Homo sapiens: one gene and its partners. The protein of the gene in region 3 interacts with the protein of the main gene of each other region in a pairwise test. Each region holds a gene or a part of one and is shown on either strand. Other genes may lie near its edges. The genes, in order: MRRF, TGFBI and FAM9B.

Evidence for each region.
Region 1: the proteins of FAM9B (region 3) and MRRF interact in binary tests that used the Homo sapiens proteins (3 or more experiments, as listed by UniProt).
Region 2: the proteins of FAM9B (region 3) and TGFBI interact in binary tests that used the Homo sapiens proteins (3 or more experiments, as listed by UniProt).

What each region holds. Positions count from the first base shown.
Region 1 is NC_000009.12:122,278,327-122,281,977, reverse strand, and holds part of MRRF (ribosome-recycling factor, mitochondrial isoform 1 precursor), read right to left. Parts: intron 1,536-3,651; coding exon 1,380-1,535; intron 1-1,379. UniProt on the Homo sapiens protein: Responsible for the disassembly of ribosomes from messenger RNA at the termination of mitochondrial protein biosynthesis. Acts in collaboration with GFM2. Promotes mitochondrial ribosome recycling by dissolution of intersubunit contacts.
Region 2 is NC_000005.10:136,049,383-136,053,033, reverse strand, and holds part of TGFBI (transforming growth factor-beta-induced protein ig-h3 precursor), read right to left. Parts: intron 3,596-3,651; coding exon 3,454-3,595; intron 128-3,453; coding exon 1-127.
Region 3 is NC_000023.11:9,032,023-9,035,773, forward strand, and holds the start of FAM9B (protein FAM9B), read right to left. Parts: upstream 2,106-3,751; 5' UTR 1,830-2,105; intron 1,262-1,829; exon of another isoform or gene 1,100-1,261; coding exon of another isoform or gene 965-1,099; coding exon 937-964; intron 440-936; coding exon 319-439; intron 140-318; coding exon 108-139; intron 1-107. UniProt on the Homo sapiens protein: May play a role in meiosis.

The DNA of each region.
Region 1 (3,651 bases), on a different chromosome or scaffold from region 3:
GAAGTCCCAACACAGGCTTTTCAGAATGCAATTGTGGTGGTTACCATTCCTAAATCCGTATCGACATAATGCATCAAATCCTTTTCCCTCAATCTGTCCCCAGCGAGAATCTCCCTCAGCCTCATTCCTGCCCCTCATTTTCTCAGAGGTTAACATTTAACAAATTACACTCCCAACCTCTTTCCAGGCCCATCATCTTTTTAAGTTCAACAAGAGTGGAGCTTGCTGGCTAATTTTAAGTATCACATTTCTCCCTGAGCTCCTCTCAAACTGCTCTCTGGTTTCGGCTGCAGAATGTTAACAGGCCAGAAAACACAGGGGAGACAGAGCACTTTATCAGTTTCATACCTAAAATAATAAGCAAGTTTAAAATAAACAGTTGAGAGAGATTGAATGGCACGCTCTACTGTCAGCAAAGGCAGAAATGCCCCAGCCCAAAGGTTGACAAGTGACGGGAACAGTCTTCTAGTTTCACACTGGATCTCATCTCTGAACTCGGTAATGTTTCTGATAGTGTTTATAAGTGGAGCTGTATTTTTCACTTGGTTTTCTTAAGAGCGAAATATTTCTAGTTTTCTTATGAACTATCCTAATCAAGATGTGAGTAGAAGCAGCCCAAGCTCCCACAGGTACCTTAAGAGAGGGGTCCCAGGTTTGACTTTAGGATGATGACAATTTGCAAAAGCCTAATTTAACAGCAACTGGATTTTTCCTGCCTGCTTGCACCATCAGCTGACAACTCACTTCTCCATCACATCTGCAAACAGTTGGCCTAGACAGTTCTGACATTTCCCACTTAGAAAAGCCACTTTCAGGAAGTTATTAACCCAAACGGAATCTTCCTGGTCAAGCTCAGGGGTATAGAAATGCCTCACGTGGGCAGGTCTGTATTCATTTGGTTCCCAGTAAGGGATAAGAACTGCCAAACAGGACAAATTGGAAAAATCGGACCAAAGATGTCAGTTACTATGAGACTAAATACCTAGATGTGTTTATAGTACATTCATAATAAAAATCTCATTTTTCTGAGAGTCTAATTCCATGATAGCAAAGACAATACCTATTTTTGTTTACTACTATGCACTAGCACAATGCCTAGTTCCAAAGTAGACAAAAATTTGCAGCATGGATAAATAAATGTAGTGTTAACTATGCGCCAGGCACTATGCTAGAACCATAATACGTTACCTCATTTATTTTAACTACCACCCCAAAGCTGTAAGTTAAGAATCAAACAAGAAAACCGAGGACCAGAAAAGCAAAGTAACTGCCCATGGCCACCAGTTAGTAAATGGCAAAGCTGGGACTAAAACTCAACTCTGCCAAACCCATGCTCTTTCCATTACATCCCTCCCCAGAACATTGGTTCAGTCACTAACCTGGTGAGGTCCTTATATTGAGAGTCTTATTGAAATTATCCTTGAGAGCTTCTATCACAGACTTCATTTCTTCATTCACCTCTTCCAAGTTGATTATATCCTCAACCAAGGCAGCATTAATATTCACTCTGGTTTGGGACTGTCCTTTCCCTTTGGCTAAAAAGTGAACATTCAGTGAATAAAACAACAGCAGCATAAACAGAGCCAATAAGCAATTGGTGAAGAAGTACCTACTATGTACAGGGAAAAATGTCAAGTGTTAGAAAATTATAAAACATTATCGCTCCACTAAAAAAGAGCCTATATTAACTGAGTGTCAACTGTGCTAAACACCTTCTCAGATACTAGTGAGGGGGCACACTTTATAATCAGACACCCCAGGTTAGAAGTCTGGCTATAATGCATACTAGCTTTATGACCTTAGGCAAGTTATCTTTCTGAGTATCAAGTTCCCTACCTGTAAAAGAATAGTAACATCTATATTGCAAGGTTGCTACAAGGATACAAATTAAGTCATTCAAACACCTAAAAGAACACTATACACATGGCAGGGAATCCATAACTAAATTAATCCCTTACTTTTCAGAAAAGTAAACAGAAGATGAGAAAGGTAAAGCTATTTGCCTAATGTCACAGGTCAGGAAATGGAAAAGTCAAGATCTGGTTCCAGATCTGCCTAATTTTAAACCCATGAACTTTTCACTAGCCCATCTCCACAAAATCTAATTAGAGAGACAGGAAATACATTAATTCATTAAAAATGGACACTAAGACAAGGATATGCACACAATATCTGATGGCTGGTAGAGTACAGACAAAAGGAACAATAGTAGTTTACAGACATTAAACACTACCAATGGTAGAGACAATGGCTTATATTTTAGAAAATCAACAGCATTGGGAGCTGAATATAATTTCATTTTATGTCTAAATCATCGTAGTGATTTTTCATATACATTCTAGGTGTATACATAGATAATTTCTGTGAGTGATGCAAATATTCTTGCATTTCTTTTATAGGGAATGGGGAAGGAGAAAAACAATAAAATTTTAAACAATATTTACACTGTTTATTCATTAAACATTCAACAAATATTTATTGAGATTCATTAAATAAATTTTGTTGAACATCTACAGTGAACTCAATCCTGTACTATTTGGGTGGCATATTATAACTTGCAATGCAATTTCAAGTACATTCTCCTCCTTGCTATCCAAGATAGCTCTCTGAGGTAGGAAGAATAGTGATTAGTATTGTCCCCATGGTACAGATGAGAAATCTAAGGCACAAGCCATTTAAATGTTTCGTCCAAAGTAAACAACTGGTAAGCAACAGAGTGATTTTTAAAAACATTTATTTGCCCATGTTACCATTATGCTTTGAAACCAATGGCTTAGGTTTTTTTTCAGAACTGATAGAAGATGTGGGGCTGGGCGCAGTGGCTCATGCCTATAATCCCAGCACTTTGTGGGGCCGAGGCAGGCAGATCACGAGGTCAGGAGTTCAAGATCAGCCTGACCAAAATGGTGAAACTCCATCTCTACTAAAATTACAAAAATTAGCTGGGCGTGGTGGCGTGTGCCTGTAATCCCGGCTACTCGGGAGGCTGGGGCAGGAGAATCGCTTGAACCCGGGAGGTGGAGGTTGCAGTGAGCCGAGATCAGTGCCACTGCACTTCAGCCTGGGCGACAGATCAAAGAAAAAAAAAAAAGATGTGGATCTTCGGATTGAGAAACACAAGTTTCAAATAGGACAATAAAAGTAAATTCACACCTAGACATGTTGTGACTGCAGAAAACAAAGGACAAAGAGATCTTTATAAACGCCCAAGAGAAAAGACAAATTATCCATGAAGGATTAAAACTTAGAACACTTTCCAAGAGCAACAACAGAAGCCAGAAGCAACTGAAATAATATCTTCAACTTTGAACTTTTAAAACCAAATATGCACATTAATAATTTAAAGATATGCCTGTCAATATTGGAATGAATAGTAATATTTATGAATGAAATACTATGCAACCATGAGAAAGAATGAACACACACAAAAATTTAAATGAGTCTCACAAACATGATGTTGAACACAGAGGCCAGACACAAGAAAACAAAACTGTACAGTACAAAGGCCAGATATGAGAATATAAACTGAAAAGTAAAAAAAAAGAGAAAACGAATCCATGCTACTAGAAGTCAGAATAATAGTTATCTGCAAAGGGTCAAGGGTAGTACTTACTAGAAAGAAGCACAAAGGGGACTTTTGACATGCTAAGA
Region 2 (3,651 bases), on a different chromosome or scaffold from region 3:
TTGATAGTGAGCATGTCCCCGCTGCAGCCCACCTCCAGTGTCGTGCCCTCCAGGGTCTCTACAGACAGCCCCGCAACGATGGCTTCAGCACACATAGCTGACTTCAAGATGTGGTTGTTCAGCAGGTCTGGGGTCCAAACAGACTCAGGTCAAGTCAGGGTCCACTCCACGATAACCTCAGGGACCACTTGCAGCCTGCCCATGCTGTGAGGATCCTGTTCTCTCAGATGAGGACCCTCAGATGAGGCTGGGGCACCACAGGGCCCAGATCCTCCTCGCCTTCTGCCTGCTGCCCTAGAAAACCAGCTGGGGCCCTGTGGCCACTTTCCAGCTGTGGGACCCTGGGAGAGTCATTTAGCCTCTTTGAACCTCAACTTCCTTATCAGTCAAGTGGACATAAGAATTGCATTCATCTCCTAGGGCTGCTGTGGGGATGACATGAAATTCTGAACCTAAAGCACTCGGCACGGGGCCTGACAACAGAGTAAATGCTCAACAAATGTTAGTGATTAGCTTATTTGTAGCTGAACTTCAGGGATACAAGAAAAACTCAAGAGAGCCTACCACGGGATTTTAGAAATCTACTCACCTTTATAAAAATGTAAACTGTAGTAGGAAAAGACGAAAAGTGTACAAATGACAGCTTTGAGTTATTTGTGTACACTTTATTTGTCCAGTTTTCTGTTCATTTAGCCCAAGGGTCTACTAGCTGCCAGGATATATCTTAAGGTTTGGTGATCAGTAAGACTTGGCCTTTGCCATCCCATTCACCACACCCATAAATAGTAAGTATAATAATTTATTTGCTTATCCAAGTGCTACTTTAGGGGGCAGGGCAGGGCTGAGGCCCAAAGGGGGCTCCTGACCCATCGTGACTCCTGCTGGTCTCCATTGCCTCGGAGAGCCCAGACAGGCTGGATGGAGGCAAATGCAAGGACCAGTCAAGGAGGAGGAGCCCCCCCCAACCCCAGGCTGAGCAGGTGGCCTGGACTGCTGCTCACCAAGGTCACCGAGGCTCTATGTCCCATATTCTCACCACGGAGGCGAGTTTCAATCTGATCCCAAGTGTGGGAACCAAAACCACACTGTCATAGGCAGGAGGAAGCTCTGAGGCCCTGCAAGGCATGGGGCTGCTGCAGACGAGTTGATGGCCTTGGAAGCCCGTGCTGGCCACATTCAGCCAGAGGGAAAGAAAAAGGGTGAGAAGGCCTATGGGAATGAGGCCTTGGGGATTGAGCTTCTTAGAGAAGGAAGGTGAAGTCCACGATGTGGTAGAGGAACCTGCCAGGGCCACTTGGAGGGTGAGCAGGGCCAGGGCTGGAAACTAGTCTTCAAACTGGACACACCACCAGCCCTGGCTGCTTCTCGCCTGCCTGCCTGCCAACCTGCCGGTAACAGCAGGAGACTGTTGGGTGTGGGGCAAGGACCTCTTCCTTCCAGTCTGCAGCGATGGCACCAAACAGAGTGTCCTTGCTCTGAACCAGCTGGTTAGTGAGTAGGAAAAGGCAGATTTGCAAAAGGGACGAAGTAGGGGCCTTTTTTTTCTTACAGTTTATAATAAGGAGTTTTTTTTGTTTTGTTTTGTTTTGTTTTGTTTTTTTCTTTTGAGAGAGTCTAGCTTTGTTGCCCAGGCTGGAGTGCAGTGGCATGATCTGGGCTTATTGCAACTTCTGCCTCCCAGGTTCAAGTGATTCTCCTACCTCAGCCTCCTGAGTAGCTGGGATTACAGGTGGCCACCACCACACCCAGCTAATTTTTGTATTTTTAGTAGAGACGGGGTTTTACCATGTTGGCCAGGCTGGTCTTGAACTCTCAGCCTCAAGTGATCTGCCCGCCTTGGCTTCCCAAAGTGCTGGGATTATAACCATGCCCGGCCTATAGTAAGGAGTTCTGAGGTCTCCAAAGCAAAGAATGTGCTCTGTGCAAATCATGTTTTAATAGGGAATACAGTTCTAAAAGCCTTTGGGCCCCTTAAGGCTATGTGTGTCCCAATGCCCGCCCTCATTCCCCATTTTGTGCTGTGAGTATCTCTGTCATTGCACTCACCAAATCAGATCCCAACAACCTGTTTTAAAGCCTGCCATTTCTACTAGGTCTTAAGTTTCTTGGAGGCAAAGGCTGTGCTGTATTCATTTTCATGGCCTCTGTCCCCAGTGCCGGCCAGGCGCATAGAGGTACCATAATCACCTGGACACGGAACAAATCCCGTCTTCCCATCTGTGCTTTCAGAAATATGCCCTTTCCCATCCCTGCACAGATAGAAGGAGAACACTTTAAATGTATAGATGTATAGGGTGTCTGAAATGCATTAGACATTTTATATAGCACATTGACACGGTGGGTTTAAATAGATTCAAAAGAAATCAAGTGATCCTGGAATATGTTTGAGAGGAAAAGTGTGGTGGGGTACATCAGAGACCTGGGGCGTACCCTGCATTTCAGGGGACTCAGGCAGCAGCTTTGTGCTCATGGCCTTTCAGAGGTCCTGGAGTAGAAAGGGGCAGGGTAGGGGGAAGGCAGAGTCCTCCTTTCTCATCTCCAAAAGGAAAACATGTGAAAACACGTTAGCTCCTTCCTTCCCTCTCCTGCAGCAATAATCAATGCACTGCCTAACTTAGCAGCTCATTGAGGAGGGCATGACGAAATCTGAAATGGAGAGTCAAAAGTTGACTACTATAACTGTTTTTTTTTTTTTTTTTCTTGAGACGGAGTGTCGCTGTGTCACCCAGGCTGGAGTGCAGTGGTGCAAGCTTGGCTCACTGCAACCTCCACCTCCTGGGTTCAAGTGGTTCTCCTGCCTCAGCCCCTGAGTAACTGGGATTACAGGTGCCCACCACCATGCCCAGCTAATTTTTGTATTTTTAGTAGAGATGGGGTTTCGCCATGTTGGCCAGGCTGGTCTCAAATTCCAGATCTCAGGTGATCCGCCCACCTTGTCCTCCCAAAGTGCTGATATTAAAGGCGTGAGTCACTGTGCCTGGCCTATGGCTGGTTTTTAACTGTAATTTTGGTTTATCCATAAATCCCCTAGCCACAGAGAAGAATAGTGAAGCGTGGGCATGAGGAATCCATTTCAAGGGTGCCAGTATCTGCCACCCCCACACCTGTAAGCTGTTGCTCTACCTATTAGCCTTGCTCTGGCCTTGGCTATTCCAGCCTTTCACTCTCCCTGTTTCTGGCCAGGGCCAGCTATGGGTCTCCAGCTATGCCTCTCTTCAGTCCAGCTCTCCCAGACAAAAGCTGCTGGATTCTGTAGTCAGCCCTCAGAGTAGTGTGGCTGCTAGAGACACGGTTAGCTGAAGCAACAGGACAGGATGACCCCAGCCCATGGCTGCAGTGGATATCCTGAGGGTCACCTCATGGCAGGTGGTATGTTCATCTTGGACCAGAGCAGGTCTTGGGCTCAATCTAGCTGCACAAATGAGGCAGCAGCAGGAGCCAAAGGATGCTCACCTCTCAGGGCTTCTGGGTCGCCCAGGATACGGTTCAAAGTCTCACTAGGGATCTTCTCGAAGGCCTCATTGGTCGGGGCCAAAAGCGTGTACTGGCCGTTACCTTCAAGCATCGTGTTGAGCCCTGATGCAGCCACAGCAGCCTGTGGGGAGGAGAGAAGATGGAGTGCTCCCTGAAGACTCTGGCACTCCCCACAGA
Region 3 (3,751 bases):
GAAGCCATTTAAGACAGTCTTGTCGTCCACTAATTCATATAACCTACTGCAACAGTTGTATGACTGAAAACAATTTTCATAAACTACAGATAACTCCTAAAACATACCTGCAGTATCTTCTGGCTTCTTGGTATTAGCCCTGTAAAAAAAGTTACATCAAAATTTTAACAAAATACTACACAAAATGCCATGTTTGTTGGGAAAAGAAATGTCTTATGTGAAATGTTCTGCATAGAATAGAACAGTGATGACATGGTCCAAAGCTGACTTTTCCTAAAAGACCCTATCCGACAGGCAAAAGTGACTTAAACACTTTACCCCGTGTGTTCATCTGTTTCAGCAAAAGGTTCTCTTTCCCCATGCTCATCAGTTACATCTTCCTCCCTTGTTTCTGTAAAACGGTTTCTTTCCTCACATTCATCACGGACTGGATCCTTTCCTGCATTAAAATGTAAAAGACAAACCTTTTTTAGAGGAAGATGCTGCTGTGGACATTTTTTGTGGAGAAATGTACTAGTTGTAGACTTTTTTGGGGGGGGGGGGCTCTCTGCCAATTAAAGCTTTAAAGCAGAGCTATACATGGAATCACCGGTTCCTGACCATTTTATCGAGGGACTTTTGGAAGCCCTTCGGGTTCAGGTTCCAGTAAACAACGTACTACAGTTCAGACCCCTTGGATGTCAGGACTGCACCCATGGAGAAGAGCTGCTCTGAGAGCATCTGTAACCCTGCTATGAGGGGGAGCCTTCCACGGGGAAGCCTAAGGCCCTTGAGCCTGCTTTGAAAACCTGGCGCATCTTAGCACGTGCACAATGGACTCCAGAGCCACGAAGGGGCCTGGGGCCTCGGGCTGCCCCTGTGCCCCCAGCGCAGAAAGCAGACAGACCGTCCTCTTGGGCGTGCACCTTCTTCTGGGTCCCCTTGGGCTGTATTTACCTGCATGCTTCTTCCCCCAGGCCGCCATAAATTGAGCCTCCAACTGGGCCTTGGCAGCCCTCCTGCCCACAGGATCCGTGGCTGGTTGTCCTGGGAAGCTAGAGGCGATCCCCGAACCTGGTGAGCGCAAAGACACACTAAGGAAGCTAAGGAAACCTGGCATCGGAAAGGAAAGCCATTGGGATCACAGGTTCAAGAAGGGTGGGGCTGGCCCGCCCTGGGTCTCATGTGGGAGCAGGAAGGGACGGAAAAGATGCCAGTGTCCCCTCCTGTCCTGGCCCGTCCAGCCCGTCCCCGGGGCTGGCTGCAAAGCTCACAGCTGCCCCTCACACCTGAACTCCACGGCCTCTGCGGGATCCTCGCCGCCCTTTTGGGACAGAACTCAGCCCTACCTCTGAGTCACCTAGCGACCCCATGTGGCTGGGAGGGCCGCTGGGTGACACAGGATCTCCCCAGCCACCTCTAGGGGAATGTCAGGGGCTGCACTGCCACTCGCCCCCCTGGACGCACAGGGGACCCCCGGTGACCCCCGGTGACCCCAAGTGTCCTGTCCTGTCGGGCGGCCAGGCAGGAGGGCCCCACTCAGACTGTCCCCCACAACACCCCCGCCTCACTCCCACTTCTCCCCCCCTCGGCCCCTCCCCCCAACACATGCACAAGCCCCCAGGACCCTCCCGGGCCCTAGGGATCACCCAGGCAGCTCCAGCTCCCTCCCTGCCCTGGCCCACCCCAGCCCACCCTAGCCCACCCTCAGGGCCTCGCCCTGACCCAGGCCCCAGGCGACGACGCTGGGGCCATTTCCTCACAGGTCGGCGGGCTGCCCAGCGCTTCACACCCTGGTTCCCAGAGGGCCTCGTGCCTGCGTTCCCGCCTCCCCACCACGAGTGCTTCACCTGAGGGACCCCTGATGTGGCGCCCTCAAAGAACCTGCAGGCAGCGGCACCACTAGGACCTCTTAGAAAACGGGTCCTCTCAGGAAGCTGAGGCAGGAGAATTGCTTGAACCCAGGAGGCGGAGGTTGCAGTGAGCCCAGATCACACCACTGCACTGCAGCCTAGGCAGCAAGAGCCAGACTCCGTCCCAAAAAAAACAAAACAAAAAAACAAAAAAAAAGAAAAGTAAAGAAAACGGGTCCTCAGTTCTCGTGAGAGCTGCAGGCAGGACTTCCTGCGCTCCTCGCTGATTGGTCGGCTCAGTGCACATGCGTGTGACGGGCTGTGTGGGGCCAGGCCCCCTGCTGGCACGCCCTCACCCTTCCCCTAAGTGACAGCCCGTGGTTGCTGTGGACTGGGGTGGGGGTGGCCCTTTGGGGCCTCTGTCCCCACAATCTTTCAGCTTCTCCTCCTGGGGAGAGACACAAGGACTTGGGATGGAGGCCAAGTGGACAGGGCCTAGAACCTCGCCCTGGGGCTTGTTCCAGCCACCCCTGCCCCTTTGGCTAGAATGGCCATCACCCTGTGGGTGGAGCCCAGGCTCCCTCCCATGCCCTGTGTGCTTCCAACATGCCCAGCTGCGTCCTTTTTAATCAATGGATTGTGCTTTTATCGTTTGTGTTTGTTGGTTTTTGAGACTGAGTCTCACTCTATTGCCCAGGCTGGAGTGCAGTGGCAAGATCTCAGCTCACTGCAATCTCCCCTTCCCAGGTTCCAGCGATTCTCCTGCCTCAGCCTCCCGAGGAGCTGGGATTACAGGAGCCCAACACCACGCCCTGTTGTTGTTGTTGTTGTTGTTGTTGTTGTTGTTGTTGTTGTTATTATTATTATTGCATATTCGGTAGAGACAGGGTTTCACCATGTTGTCCAGGCTGGTCTCGAACTCCTGACCTCAGTTGATCCGCATGCCTTGGCCTCCCAAAGTGCTGGGATTACAGGCGTGAGCCACCGTGCCCAGCCCATAACCTTTTTTGTTTCCTCACTACTTTTCTTTCTCATCCTCATGCCCCAGACTTGCCCACAAACCTTCATACTCCAGACTTATCCAGACATATGCCACAACCTTCACCCACAAATTAATGCCTTAATACTTATCGTTAACTCAGCTTTTTCCCACCTCCGATCCCCTGTAATAGGGAGAGAGTTGTTTCGGAGTTGGGAGTGAATAAATATTGCCTAAAGTTTGTAAATCAAGATACAGAGTTTCATTATACTATTGAAATTATAAAGGCAGTCATCAGGAAAACTAATCCACAGCCTTAAATGCCTATATAACCAAAAAGAGCACACACAAAGCATACAAATCCTGTAGTAAAAGTTGGAAAATAAAGAAAATACTACAGAGACCATAACATAACATAAAAGAACAGAATTAAGGCCAAGTGAATCTGTTGAGCAAGAAATATGAATGAGATAAACTCGCATTCTAAAGGAAATGACTTCCAACTTGGATCAAAATAAAAACCTAAGTATATGCTGTATGTAAGAATGGAATTAAACAAAATGATACAAAAAGTACATATCAGAAAAATATGAAGAAAAGGAAAATATGGATCTGAGAATTGATATCTCATGAATGTAAAATAATGCAAAAAATAAATGAATAAACTAAAGGCAGAGTACACTGAACAAGAGAAGGGCACAATCTACTCTGACAATCTCACATGAATCATTTTGTGCTTAACACAGCATCAATGTGCCTAAACCCAAAACCGTAGAAAATAAAAGCAAAACAATCAATGAAAATGAACAGTGATATGAGAGTTTAAGCTCCGTCTGTCCAGGAGAGACCAAATACAAATGTATTGTCTTGGATACAGGCATAGTATCTTAAATTGCTCTCTTGGCAGTAGAGTGAGCATTTTCTTTCACTTTCAACCAAT